Homo sapiens: one gene and its partner. The protein of the gene in region 2 interacts with the protein of the main gene of each other region in a pairwise test. Each region holds a gene or a part of one and is shown on either strand. Other genes may lie near its edges.

Evidence for each region. Proteins that work in one complex are often made in the same cells at the same time.
Region 1: the proteins of CHN2 (region 2) and ANKK1 interact in binary tests that used the Homo sapiens proteins (3 or more experiments, as listed by UniProt).

What each region holds. Positions count from the first base shown.
Region 1 is NC_000011.10:113,383,145-113,390,790, forward strand, and holds the start of ANKK1 (ankyrin repeat and protein kinase domain-containing protein 1), read left to right. Parts: upstream 1-4,634; 5' UTR 4,635-4,740; coding exon 4,741-4,925; intron 4,926-4,931; exon of another isoform or gene 4,932-7,245; intron 7,246-7,646.
Region 2 is NC_000007.14:29,498,771-29,505,789, forward strand, and holds part of CHN2 (beta-chimaerin), read left to right. Parts: intron 1-1,096; coding exon 1,097-1,270; intron 1,271-5,973; coding exon 5,974-6,051; intron 6,052-7,019.

The sequences.
Region 1 (7,646 bases), on a different chromosome or scaffold from region 2:
CACATGCATTGATTCATGTGGCCACCACCACAGTTAAGATACAGAATAGTTTCATCACAAGGTTCCTTTGCACTAACCTTTTACAGCTACACCCACCTGCCTCTCCCCCAATCTCACCTCTGACAACCACTAATCTGTTCTCCATCTCTATAATTTTGTCATTTTAAGAATGCAATATAAATGGAGTCATACAGTATGTAACCTTTTATGATTGGCTTTGTTCACTCAATAGAATTCTCTGGGGCCTCATCCAAGTGGCTGTGTATATCAGTAGTTGCTGAGTCCTATTCCATAATACAGCACTATGGTGTGTTTAGCCATTCATTGGTTGAAGGACATCTGAGCGGTTTCCAGATTTTAGCTATTGCAAATAAAGCTGCAATGAGCATTCATATACAGATTTTTGTGTGAACACTGTTTTCATTTCTCTGGGATAGATTCCCAAGAGTGCAATTGCTGGGTTGTATGGTAATCATATGTTTAGTCTTATAAGAAATGGCCAAATTCTTTTCTAGAATTGCCATACCATTTTACATTTCCACCAGCGTATGAGTGATCCCATTACTCTACATCCTCATCAGCATTTGGCGTTGCCACTATCTTTTCAGTTTTATTTTTAGCCATTCTGATAGGTAGTTAGTGATATCTTACTTGCATTGCTTAGTGGCTCATGATATTAAACATTTTTTCAAGAACTTATTTGTCATCTGTATATTCTCTTCAGAGAAATGTATTTTCCCATTTTCTAATTTGATGCTTTTTTAGCATTGAGTTTGAAGACCTCCTTATATACTCTATGAACCAGCACTTTGTCAAATATGTGCTTTACAAACATTTTCTCCCCATCTGCACTCTTCTCTTCACCTTCACCAGGTCTTTCACTGAGTGAGAGTTTTTCATTTTGATGAGGTTCAGTTTATCAATTTTCCCTTTTATGGATTGTGCCTGTGGGATTCGGCCTAAGAACTTTTCATCTAATCCTAGGTCCAGAATATTTTCTCCTTTTTTTTTCCTAAAATTTTTATAAGTTTACATTTAATATTTAAGTCCATGATTCATTTTGAGTTAATTTTTCAGGTGTGAAGTATCAGCTGGTTCATATTTTTTGCCTAGGAGTATTCCTAGTATATACCTAAGGAATGTAACCTTTAAAAATATACCTAGTATTTAGATATATTTTATGGATGATAATCATAATAACCATTCCAAAAGGTTGCTGTAAGAATTATAACCTTTAAAAATATCCTAGGTATATTAAACTAATATGATATTATATTGTATTTTTATGTTATATTAGTATAATATTATACTAATATACTAGGTATATTTTTAAAGGTTATAATTCTTATAGCAATGTTTTGGAATGGTTATTATGATTATCATCTATTTTACAGATGGAGAAACCCAGAAAGATTTGATAATGTGACCAAGGTTAAACAAATGCTAAGTGATAGAAAGAAGCCAGGGTTTAAATGCGGGTCTGACTGACTGACTCACTCCCACATTTAAACCCTGTTCCTATTGCCTCATTCAATCCCTTTCACTCTGGGAGTCCTGCTTCCTGAACAGATGTTCCACTTTCCTGCATACATTCCTTTATCCTGACCAACCTCAGTACACAAGCTACCAGAGGCTGGGGCCTGCCAGAACCTGTCCAGGGTTCTCCGTGACATGTTTGCAGGGTGGAGAACAGGGGCAGACTGGGAAACTTCCCTATATGCAAATAGCTTGTCATTCCGGTTTGGGGAAAGGCTCACATCAGATTTCAGCATCTTCTAAAGTATTGCAGAGCTCCTGTACCAGCTCACTTGTCTGGGAGGAGCAGGCTAAAAATCTTAGGTTCCCCAAAGACAATCACACATACACACAAAATTCATTTAATAACTCCAAATCCAGAACACTTCCATCTTCAATCTGCCCAAACAAAATGCACTGATAGAGGTTAGTTGGAAGGACTCAGAGCATTTTGGGGTAAAACTTCTATAGCTAGAACCTGTTCCTTGCCCCTTCTGGTGGGTGGGGGTCATAATTGGACTATAACCACTTCATTATCCATTCCCATTTGTAGGTAGATATGGGTAAAGGTAGAGTTTCCCTCCCAACCCCCCAGCTCTCTCCCCTCCACACACTGGCTGCTGACTTCCCAACCAGCCAGGACCTAGGGACTTCTGCACTCAGACCACTGGAAAGAAACCAGCAGCCTCTGAGTTGACTTTACTCTTTTGCAAATCCCTATACCTCACCCCACTTTTAATGAGAGATCCAGGAGTTCTTTGCCTCTGTGACCTTATACTCAGAAAGGGTCCCTCCACTTACAACTTCTCCCAGAGCTTATCCAAAGACTACTAGGCCTTTGCCCTAGCCCATGTTAGACAGCTGTAAGGAGCAGGACAAGCCCAGTCAAATGATCCAGTCCCTCTGGGTCAATGAATGTATCTATTTTGACTGACTCCTCAGAAGCCTCAGGGGTGCTTGAACCCACAGCAGAGAGTTTCAACAGGTGGGTCAGCAGTAATACGCCCTGACCCTGCAGTTCCTCCACCTCCACCCCTGTGAGAAATTCAGAGGTATTTTGTTCGGGATTCTGGCAACATGCCTTGAGCCCTGGGTGTCCCCTCTTCTAGGAATGATGCTTTCTTCAGTATTCCTGTGACAGTCTCTGCAGGCAGACAATGGCAGCTTCTGGTTACTTCCTCTCCCTGGAGAGCCACTTCAGGTATAAGTGGATCAAGGGGAACTGCTGAAATGACTCAGGCCATTCACCCTTGGTATTTCCTCCAGGAGCTGAGATAGGTCTCGCTGAATGTCAAAGATCGGGCCTCAGTCAAACTTCCGCAGAGCTGGGTGGCTGGTCACCTTCCCAGTCTCCATGTTCACCCTCCCAGTAGAAGGTATGAAACATCCTCTTGACCTCCTGGTCTCCCTGATGACAATGTCCTTTATCACCTTCCAAACTTCTCTGGCAGAGGCTTTAAACTTGGGCAGGCAGGGCTACTCCAGAGACAATGGGTTCTGTTATGCCCTGTCTTGCTCCAGCCAAAGCAAGCTGGGGGCCTCCCTCTGACATATGTTTGGGGGATACGTCCTGCTCCTGATGCAGTTTCCATCATCTCCACCCTCTTCCAGGGAGCATGACTCTCTCTCTTCCTTTTTTGTATTCATAAAAGGCTACTCCCTGATCCTCCCCTGGCCAACCATTTCCATAGAAACTAAGAGACTTGAGTTTGAATATCAACTACCACTTACTAGCTATGTGTCCATTGATTACTTATTGTCTTGAAGCCAGTTTCCTCATCTGTGAATAGAAGATGTTGACCTCATAACATTGTTGCAAGATAAACAGGATAATATATGTAAAGCAATGCAGTAACTGAAATAGTCACTGATCCTGGAACAAAGTGAGTGTTCAATTAGTAGTGGCTATCACTAGTTTCTATGACAACTGTCTCCAGGCCCAATCTTTGATCCTTAATCTGCTTGCCAGAATTCATCCTGGAAGTTGCAGGTAAGTTGTTACAGAGGGAGCAAGTTCTCCAGCTTCCACAGGGAGTCTCTGTTTGCCTATCATGCCTACACTGTTCCCTGGGAGTCTGGTGGGCTTGTGGCATGGACGAGGGGCTCTGCAGGTTTGGGCTGAAGGCAAGGCACTTCCTTGTCTGGTAGGTAGGCTCCTCAAACCTAACAGTGATCACTCTGAGGGCTCCTTGTGGACTTACTCAGCTGTAGGCAAATAGTGGCTGACTCTGCACTCCGTGGCCACAGTTCCTCCAGGTATGCCTGTCTCTGGGCAATGGCCCACTTGGTCAGTGCCCCTGGGGAGACCTGTCTGTTCAAGCACTTGTCATTTTCCCTGCTCTGAGGGTCTCCAAGGTGAGAGGGCAATCCCATGGACCCAGGACCCAGGGGAACCTCCAAGCTCAGCACTGGTCAGGCTCCAGCTAGAGCCTCCTCTCATCCCTGGCAACAAACTGCCCCTAGTAACTGCGCCAAGGAGGCCACCTCCCCCGTGGCCACCCCGAGGCTGGGGTCCATCCCTCTGAGGTTGGATAGAGCGCAGCCCAGGAAGGGAGTCCCCTGCAGACAGGAGCCCAGCCTCCCCCGCAACTCTGTCCCTGCTGACCCCTCCTTGGTAACCTATAGCACACCAAGGCTGGCTAACAAACAAACAAACAAAACCCCAACAAGAACAAAGGAAACATGAAACCAGTCAGACCAACAGATTCAGACCAGAAAATCCCCATTAAAATTGTTTGAGCCCCATACTTGCTGGATAGGGGCAGGGGTCCAGGCCTGAATCCTTCATAAACCATAAAACCTTGAATGCACTGAAGGAATGCATAAACCGATTTCACTTAGCGCTGGGCCTAAATAAACTGGATCCAACTTCTCAGGCTGGACTTCTTCCAGCTTCGGGACACCTTCTCCCAGCATCCCTCCCTAGGGGGAACTGGGGAAAATCAAAGGCTGAGACAGGGGAAATGCGAGGGCTTCGGAGGGACATACCCTCTTCCCCAGGCCCAGGTCGCTCCATCCCTGCTGGGGCCTCAGGGCTCATGTCTGGGATTTCCCCACCTTTGCGGGGCAGGAGCGGCTCCTCTTGGGCGGGGAAGGAGGCAGGGCCGGCTCGTCTCCCCATTCCCCTCTCCCGGACCCGAGGAGCAGGAAGCGGCGGCTCCTTCGGCCACCCAGGCAGCAGCCACAGCGGGGAGTGCGCGGCGCGGGGACAGGAAGAGAGGGGCAATGGCTGCCGACCCCACCGAGCTGCGGCTGGGCAGCCTCCCCGTCTTCACCCGCGACGACTTCGAGGGCGACTGGCGCCTAGTGGCCAGCGGCGGCTTCAGCCAGGTGTTCCAGGCGCGGCACAGGCGCTGGCGGACGGAGTACGCCATCAAGTGCGCCCCCTGCCTTCCACCCGACGCCGCCAGGTACTGCCAGCCTCGCCCTCCCCTTTCTCGGAGGAGAAACTGAGGCCCGGCAAGCTTTGGGCCCAGGGAGCTTGCGAGGAAGGAGTGGGCTGAGTTTGGGGCTGAGGACTGTCCCCCGCGGTATTTCTGAATTCCACCCAGTAGCCTGAGCCTCCCAGGCACACCCATACCTGTCTCCCTAACCAAAATAGAGTTGGCACATAATACCTGTTTGTAGACTCAACAGAGGTCAAAGGCAAGCGGGAACTACCTACCAAAGACGCCTTTATCCCATCTGACCTTCCGAACTTGTCCTGCCTGCTTCCATCCTTCTCTCCAGCGCCTTCTTCCCCCGGTGTCCTGTGGCAATAACTGCTCTTGACCGCTCTCTGCCATCCTCCTACCCACCCCAGCTCTCAGGGCAGGGCTGAGCATCCTGGGAGGCTGTGGCACTTTGCTCAGATCTGCAGGGAATCATGTTCTCTCTTCCCACGGTGGCGGGAGGGAGGAGGCCCCTCCCAATCAGTGCAGGCTGAGGAGGTCAGGGGATGGAGACTGCCCGGCCTGATGGCCTGTCCAGGCCCTTGGAGGGTCAAGTCTGGAGTTCTCTCATCTCTGTTTTTGTTTTTGTCCCTTGCTGTCATGCGCACTACAGCGACGCCTTGACATGCCCCTATTTTTCTCTTCCTACCTCTTTCCTACGTTTCCATTATTCTCTGTCTTCCCACTGATTTGGAATCCAGTCTCATTCCCACTGGAGTTGCATATACTAGCTGTGTGCTTGCACCTTGCAGCCATGAAGAAGACACTCGGGATGTTAAACCTGAGCATGATAACCATGTCCTCCTCCCAAGGCTCTGGGACATCAATTAGAGAGTCCGGGACGGGGGTCTCTCTGACTGGCATCTGGCTTGGATGCTATCTGTGGTTCTCTAGGATTACCATGCAAACTCTTAAGATACAGCCTCAGGTGCCACACACTCAGTTCCCAGGCCTTCCCCCACCTTATGAGGAGAGGAAAAATAAGATCGCCTAAGGCCCACTCACCTTCCTCCCTCAACATCTGCCTGTTGGTTTTGGAGGAGGGTCAGAGTATGCTAGGATTTGTCTAAATCATTTATAGCCTTTTGAATATAGAACGAAAGGAAACAGATGGCAGTGACATGATTACACTGTGAGACATTGATGCTAACTCCTGCCACTTTCCCTTCCCAAGTTCTGGGAATTCCCTGGGTGGAGGGGGTAAGATAATTAATGGTAATTAAGACTTAGTATGTATGGATTACTATACTAGGAGCTTTACGTGCATTACTTTACTAGATCCTCTTTCCAGCTATTCATTCATTCATCCACTTGACAAATGCTTACTGCTCTTCTACTATGTGTCAGGCACTGTTCTACACCCTGGGATTAACGATGAATGCAACAGATGTGTCCTTTCTCTCCGGGAGATTGCAGCCTAGGGGGAGGAAGACATTAACCAGATAACCCCACATGTAAATGTAAATGTGCTACTGTGAGAAGCTTAAGAAGGGGAGATTTGTGGCTCTAGGAGAGCTCATTAACAGAAAGTTTGACTGATATCAGAAAAGGCTTCCTTGAAGAAGTTACACTACAGCTGAAATGTGAAGAATGAGTATAAGTTAAGTAGGTGAGGAGGAGAAAGTTTTCCAAGAACAGACAACAGAGTGTGCAAAGAATCTGTGGCAAGAGGGGCATGGTAAGTACAAAGATGGGAAAAGGCCATGATGGCTGGAGTTGGGAGAGTAAAAGAGCAGTGGAAAACCACTGAGCATTTACAACCAGGTAGCGGTGGTGACCATGGGAGGGATTAATCAGAATTGCAGTATGGAGAATGCATTGGGAGGGGTAGAGTGGATTCTGGTTAAGTTAGGAGATTGTTATCTTCATTCTGATGAGAGACGGATAATAGGGGCTAGAGTGGAGTGTTGGTAGTGGAGATAGGAAAGGAATGGGTCAAGCCATATTTAGAAGGTAAAAATCCACCCGACTTGGTGCTGGATTAGTCATGGGGAGGATCACGATGAGGAAGAGGGGTATTAAAGCTAACTTGATGTCTGGCTTGCCCAAAGGAATGGAGGATCCACTAAAATGTCCACTCCATGAGAGTGTCTGTTTTGGTCACAGCTCTGTCTCCTGTGCCTGGCACAGAGTTGGTGTTCAATAAATATTTATTGAATGGCAGTGTTGACAATTAATGGAGAGACTATGAAAAGAGGCCTAGACTTGGAGAGGAAGATCATGAGTTCAGCTTTGTACCTGTTGAGTTTCAGATGCCTTTAAACAACCAAGAAGAGTTGTCATGGACATCAGAGTAAAGGTTGGTGCTAACAATATTAAAACTTGGGAGTCATTTGTTATAAGTGGTCATTAAAACTAGGGCATCAGGCTGGGCCTGGTGGCTCACGCTTGTAATCCCAGCACTTTGAGAGGCCAAGGCTGGTGGATCACCTGAGGTCAGGCAAGACCAGCCTGACCAATATGGTGAAACTCCATCTCTACTAAAAATACATAAATTAGCTGGGCGTGGTGGTGGGCACCTGTAGTCCCAGCTACTCAGGAGGTTGAGATAGGAGAATTGCTTGAACCCAGGAGGCAGAGGTTGCAGTGAGCCAAGATCATGCCATTGCACTCCAGCCTGGGCAACAAAAGTGAGACTTGGTCTCAAAAAAAAAAAAAAACAAAGCAAAAAAAAGGCATGGAGGAGATGCATTCATTCCA
Region 2 (7,019 bases):
TTTTTTTTTGGAGACAGAGTCTCCCTCTGTCACCAGGCTGGAGTGCGGTGGCGCAATCTCAGCTTACTGCAACCTCTGCCTCCTGGGTTCAAGTGATTCTCCTGCCTCAGCCTCCTGAGTAGCTGGGATTACAGGGGTCCACCACCATGCCCAGCTAATTTTGTATTTTTAGTAGAGACAGGGTTTCACCATGTTGACTGGTCTCAAACTCCTGGCCTCAGGCAATCCGCCCACCTGCCTCGGCCTCCCAAAGTGCTGGGATTACAGGCGTGAGCCACCACGCCCGGCCAACTGTGCCTTTTTATCATCAGAGAAATTCCGTCAGTGGATATTGACTGCTAACAGGCTCTTCGTGTTTTCATTGAACTTTAAAAGCACCCTTTTCAGCTTTGGATTTTCATATGAACTTTATAAATAATCATCACATTACATTACATGGTATTGTTATAAACTCTCAAGTACTCCTACTGGTGTATATAGTTAGGCATTATTTCCACTCACAGGTGTCAAAATAAGGCATGTAGAAAGGAAAGCGGCCTACCCAAACTGCCCAAGGAGGAAGGGATTGGAAACTATGGGGCAACCTTCCAGGAAAGGGGAAGAGGATACCAATGGTCGTGGGCTTCTCAAAGCAAAGATTAGAGAGTCCTGCAGAAAGAGTAACTCTGCCTCCCACACAAGGAGCATCAAGAGCTTAAAGGAAAGAGTCTGGAACAAACCCTAGGTGCCCTTTATAAGCCAGGACTGTCTGGGAATCCAAACCCGAAAACCTACTTGTGGACCCAAAGGGTTCCAGCCTGAAACAGGAAAACATATACAAAAAAACCTGATCAATTACCTAAGCTGTCTCAGATGTTCTGTTCTTAAGGTCCAGCGACAGAGAAGGCTTAACGAGAAAAATGGAATCATATAAGGGTTTAGTGATTAGAGATGATACTTGTATTTATCCTGTAGAGAGTCCTAGAAACGGGATAGATGTTCCAGAGAAATATGTCAAACCCTTGGGTGGTGATATTTTTATTTTTGGCAACATATAATTTGTGTTGTGCTTTGACAAAAGGGCTGGGCTAGGCTAATGTGGCTTCTTTGTTTACAGACTGTGGATTGAACGTACACAAACAGTGTTCCAAGCACGTTCCCAATGACTGCCAACCTGATCTCAAGAGGATCAAGAAAGTGTACTGTTGTGACCTCACAACACTTGTGAAGGCTCACAACACTCAGAGACCCATGGTGGTAGACATATGCATTCGGGAAATTGAAGCAAGAGGTTTGGAAAATACTTCCTATTATAGTAGTATAGTGATTTTATTTTTATTGTTTGTTTTTACTGTTGTCAAGGAAACAGAGTTGCTCTACTACTCTTGTTGGGAAAATGACCTACGCATGTGTGCGCACACACACACTCTCTCTCTCTCACAGGTAGACTCAATCCAACCAGCTATATCAATTTCCATTGTATATATAAACCATGCATATATGCATTCAAAAAATGTTTACTGAACATTTATTATATGGTAGGCATTGAGGTAATAAAGGTCACCATTCTCACCTTCAAGAAATTCATACTTCAGCTGGGTGCAGTGGCTAACGCCTGTAATCCCAACACTTTTTGGAAGCTGAGGCCAGACAATCACCTGAGCCCAGGAGTTCAAGACCAGCATGGGCAACATAGTGAGACCCCATCCTACAAAATTCTTTTAAAAAATTAGCCAGGTGTGGTGGTGCACACCTGTAGTTCCAGCTACTCGAGAGGCTGAGGCATGGAAGAAATTCATACTTTAGAGTGGGCAATCAGGGGAGCAAATAAATAAACATTGTGGATGGCCGTGTTCAGGGTACCATGGAGTCACAAAGCAAAATGTTTTAATCCTATTTAAGGACGGTGAGAAGGGTTATGGCAGAGGTGAGGCTTGAATTGGAGCTTTGAAAAAAAAGGTGCTTCTGTTAAATAAGAAATTGTTGAGTAACACATACATCTCCTACCACATAAAAATGTGCTCCTAATATTCATCGTTTATTTCGAAGAGGAGAGTTCAAAGATTTAAAAGATCTATGCAATGAAAAATAAAGGAAACAAGGAAGATAGAAACATTCCAAAAAATGTTCTTTATGTTGTACATGAGTCACTTTTCCTTTATTTGTGCTTTCTTTGGCCACTGTTCAGTATCAAAATGTTCACTGAAGTTGCCGGATATAATTTGGGTGATTTGGCCATGTATAGAGCCTTTCTATAAGGCTTAAACCACTTTTGCCATGTATCATATTCTGTTATACTGGCTATCCATTATTGTGTCCTAATTGGCTTAATATATTTTATACATATATATTCATTGGTCAACTACCCCATTTTTCCAAAGCACAACTAAAGAGGATGTCATAGCTTATTATCCCAACCCTTTTAGAGAGAGGAAATTATTCCCTTTTCTATGGAGGGGGAAAACCATAGCTATCCTGTTCCCTGAGAACTTGCTAATTTAATCCCAGAGTGTAAGAAATGCCTTCTATCTTTTCACCACTGTGGCTGACAGAGCTTAATGAGTGCTTTGGGATCTGGTGAACATATTAATCCAGTGGCTAAACTGGGTAAGAGGAAAGGAGGGATTCCCTGCCTCTGGATGAGTGGTTGGGACAAGTGACCCTGGGCCCTGCAGTTTGGGGTCAGATTATCAGCCTCTCCAGAGCCTGCAGTCAGGGCTTTTCTGAAGAAGCTGGGGTCCTCCCATTGTGATCCTTACCAAAGACAACTGATAATTCAGGCATGATAACTACTGACATGTCTAACATTTAAGAATAGGGGGCACTGCACTAAGTTTGCCTAGTACAAGAGCGAGATAGAGTAGCACAAATTAGGAATTGATGCCAAAAGAGTCACAGCACAGGGATTAGAGCCCCAGACAGGTATTAGGGGCCTAAGCATGCAAGCAGAACCAGAGAATGCACCGGGAGAAATTTGTATGACACCCGCATTCCCAGCTGTGGGGCCACCACTACCAACACTTTTCCCTGTCTTCCATCCATAAAAAATCCTTATTGTTCTCCAAATGTTCTTTTATGTTCATTTGTCTCTGCGTGATGTGGCAGAGTGAAAAGATCAAGGATTTGAAGTTAAATTATCAGCCCTGTCTCTTACTGGCTGTAGTATGACCTTGGGCAAGTTGCTTACTACATTTGCATATCTGTTTCTTCATCTATAATATGAATGGAATCAACTGTACCTCATAAGGTGGTTGGTGAGGATTAAAGTGACTTGATACATAAATGGACCGAGTACAATGTCCAATCTACTGAACTCAATCTATGTTAATTTTGCCTTTTCTTGGAATGACCCACACCCATACCTCCACCTCCAAATCTGTCTAACTATATTATGTAGCCTGTACATCTCAGTGCTGTCACAGAGACCCTGAGTAACAGTGCCTTTGACAAGATAGAAATCTATTTCTTTGCCCAGTAATAGTCCAGGTACCCAGGAGCAGTCCAGGAATAGTCTGTTCCACCGTGGCAGGAACCCAGGCACTGCAGCTTGTTGCTCTGTCCTGCTTGAGTGCTATCCTGCGTGCACAATCACAGTTGGCCACCACCATCTCATCTGCATTTCACTTAACAGGAAGTGGAAAAGAGCATGCTCCATTCCTTCAAGGCCACAGAAGCTGTAAATGTCACTTCTGCTCTCACATGGGCCAGAGTTTAATGGCCACTGCAATGGATATTGTTCTAAAAATCAAAGGTTCCATTACAACAGAAGAATGGGAGAACAAATATTGGAAGGATAGCTGGCAACTTCTGCTACTCTGGCAAACTCTAACCATCCTTTATCATTTCCTTCAAAGATTAGCTTCTTAAAAAAGCATCTCGATGTAATACAGGGTGACGCTTTGCTCAGTGAAGCATGGGCTAAAGTCAGGAAAATTACCCCCATTTAATTATAATCCAAACCATACAACTTGGCATATTATATAAGGCATAGATTTTTTTTTTTAAAAGTGACGGGATACATGTGCAGAATGTGGAGGTTTGTTAAATAGGTATACATGTGCCATGGTGATTTGCTGCACCTATCAACCTGTCATCTAAGTCTTAGGCCCTGTATGCATTAGGTATTTGTCCTAATGCTCTCCTTCCCCTTGACCCCCACCCTCCAACAGGCCCCGGTGTGTGGTGGTCCCCTCCCTGTGTCCATGTGTTCTCACTGTTCAACTCCCACTTATGAGTGAGAACAAAAGCATGGATTTTTCTACGTTCCTTGAAAACCTGGATTTCTTTGAAAGTGACTCAGTGAATCTTATGGCTGAATGTTTGTGTCCCCTGCCCCACCAAATTTACATATTGAAGCCCTAATCTCCAGTGTGATTGTCTTTGGAGACGGAGGTCTCCAAAGAAATAATTAAGGCTAAATGAGGTCCTGAGGGAGGGACCCTAAACATTATGACTAATATCCTTATGAGAAGAGACACCAAAGAGCAAGCTCGCTCTCTCACTCTCCATGCACATATACCAAGGAAAGGACGTGTGAGAGAAGGTGGCCATCTATGAGCCAGAAAGAGAGCCTCACCAGAGGCCAGAACTTTGATTCATCCATCAACAGGCAGGGTTCATTGTTCACTGCTAGGGGCTCCCATAATCCACTGGGTCTGTGCCTCTGTGGCAGTGCATGTTCCAACTGGAATGAGATGTGCTCATATGCACCAACATCTTAGAACAGGATGACCCACAGGTTTCGTCTTGTGTGGCAACTCCAGTTGATCAGTAGTGGTCACCTGAACAATTGGAACTGAGATGAATTCTGAGGCTAAATAGGGCTCAGTGGGAAAAAGGGCTGAGATCAACTAAGAGTATCTGTCATGGTCACAGGAGGGATGAGGGGAAGTATTCGTGATTTACGCCACGTATTTGTTGTCTCTGATGCATACCTAATGAAGACCCTTATATATGGCAGATAATACATACTCCATAAATGTTTTCCAAATGAAAAAACAGGAGAATATGTGAGTTATCAAGAGTTTGGCAGAATATATGGCGGCAGCAGCAGAGGCTATTTGTTTGCTCATTTTTACTGTAGCTATAGTTTTGATAGCAGCTAGTTTGTGACATACAAAGTCTGAAACCCAGTCCTTTATCCCTGCTCATACTTTTGGGAACTGACTCGTTTTTAGGACATATCTTAACAAATCAATAAGCTCCAGGGACAGAAACCATGTCTTTTTTTCTTAGCCTAAATTTGCAGTGATCCAATTTCCAGAAGCAATAACCAAAACTTTATTTTCCTGCATCTGTTTGTATAATCAGTTGTCTAAAAGTATAACAAGTAACCGTTTTTAATTAAACAGTTAACATAGTCTTATTTACAAGTAAACATGAAAGGCTGTAATAGTCTAATTTTTTCCAATACAATCAGAGTAATACAGATTAGATACCCACATACATACATGTGTGTATCTAGTACAGTGCTACATACAATATAGCACATGGATTAAGATGATGCTAGGTACCCCATTTGCGCTGCTGTGATTATTACACATCTTATGCCTGTATCAAAATATCTCATATACCCCATAAATATATACACCTACTGTGTACCCACAAAAATTAATAAAGATGATGCTAGGAAGAAAGCCAGGTTGCTTCCTACGATGACGAAATTCATGTCCATCAAGCTCATGAACACAGGAAAGGAAGTAAGGGAACGGTCCATGGGAATCTTAAATATCAGTTCTCTTTGCAAAGCAGGGAAGGATGAAGACTGGATTTCCATTGAGATCTCCACTGCTACATGGGCAAATGAGAACAGACTTGCCTGGGAAATTGAGACAGACAAGTCCAAGTTCTGATGCAACAGTGTGTGATAAATAAAATCACTGTCTATGTTTGCTCATTTTCTGATAGCATGTAGTATAGACGTGAAATTAGTCTTTTTTTTTTTTTTAGATGTTTCAAGAAGCTAAAGTCAGTCTCTCTCTCTCTCTCTAACAGGATTAAAATCGGAAGGCCTTTACAGAGTCTCTGGGTTCACTGAACACATTGAAGATGTCAAAATGGCATTTGACAGAGGTAAGCTTGTACTTTCTTGAATGCCATCTGACATCCTAACACCCTTCTCGATTGGAAGTAGGTTTTAATCATAGTAGAAATGGGGTTTCAGAACTACTAAGAGTTGTTCTTCAAGAAACGGAGGAATAATGGCTTACAAATCTCATGTTTCTGCCTCACTGGGTGAAGTGTTACCTTCACAGCCATTGATAAGTGATCACTGTCAATGGGCAGACAATCCACATGGCATTGGAGTACCCATCTGCATCCCCTGTCTCAGAATCCCATTCTTCTCATTCTCTCAAAGCTCCAAAGAAGGGATCATAGGGATGGGAGGGCACCCCCAGCACTAATGTAGGGGAAGGCAGTGGACATGTAGGAGGGAACTGCTTTTGTTCTTTATAACTGTGGTGTATATTCTCTAGAACATACTATCTCTTAAGTCAGATATCATGGCCATCCTGGGGATCCTGTTAAAAATATGGGTCACTGGGACCCAACTTGAAGACTCATTCAGAAAGCTGGATAAGCCCAAGAATCTGTATTTTTAATAAGCAATCCAAATAATTCTGGTACAGCCAGTCAAGACATGGAAGCCCTACTGGATAGAGCCTACTGGATAGAGCCTCTACTTTGTAGTGTGGTATGTGAAATCAGTGAGGTAGCCCTCCCTCTCTCTTCAGACTTCTCTCCAGTTCCTCCTCCCTACTGTACTGCACACTCCAGCAATCCTGAAATACACCCTATTTGTTGCCATGAAGAAGTGCCTTGGCTCACATTGTCCTGTCTATCTGAAATGTATTCACCTCTCTGCCTGGCAAACACCTGTAATCAGGGGTCAGCTCAAGCCTTTCCTCCTTGAGGAAGCCTCGCTGACTACCCCAAGCTAACCTCAGAGCTCCACTTCCTTTTTCCACATCCCCCCACATTCTCCACACTTCTTCAGCATAGCAATCTTCCTATTTCCTTGTCATTGTTGAGTTGCATGT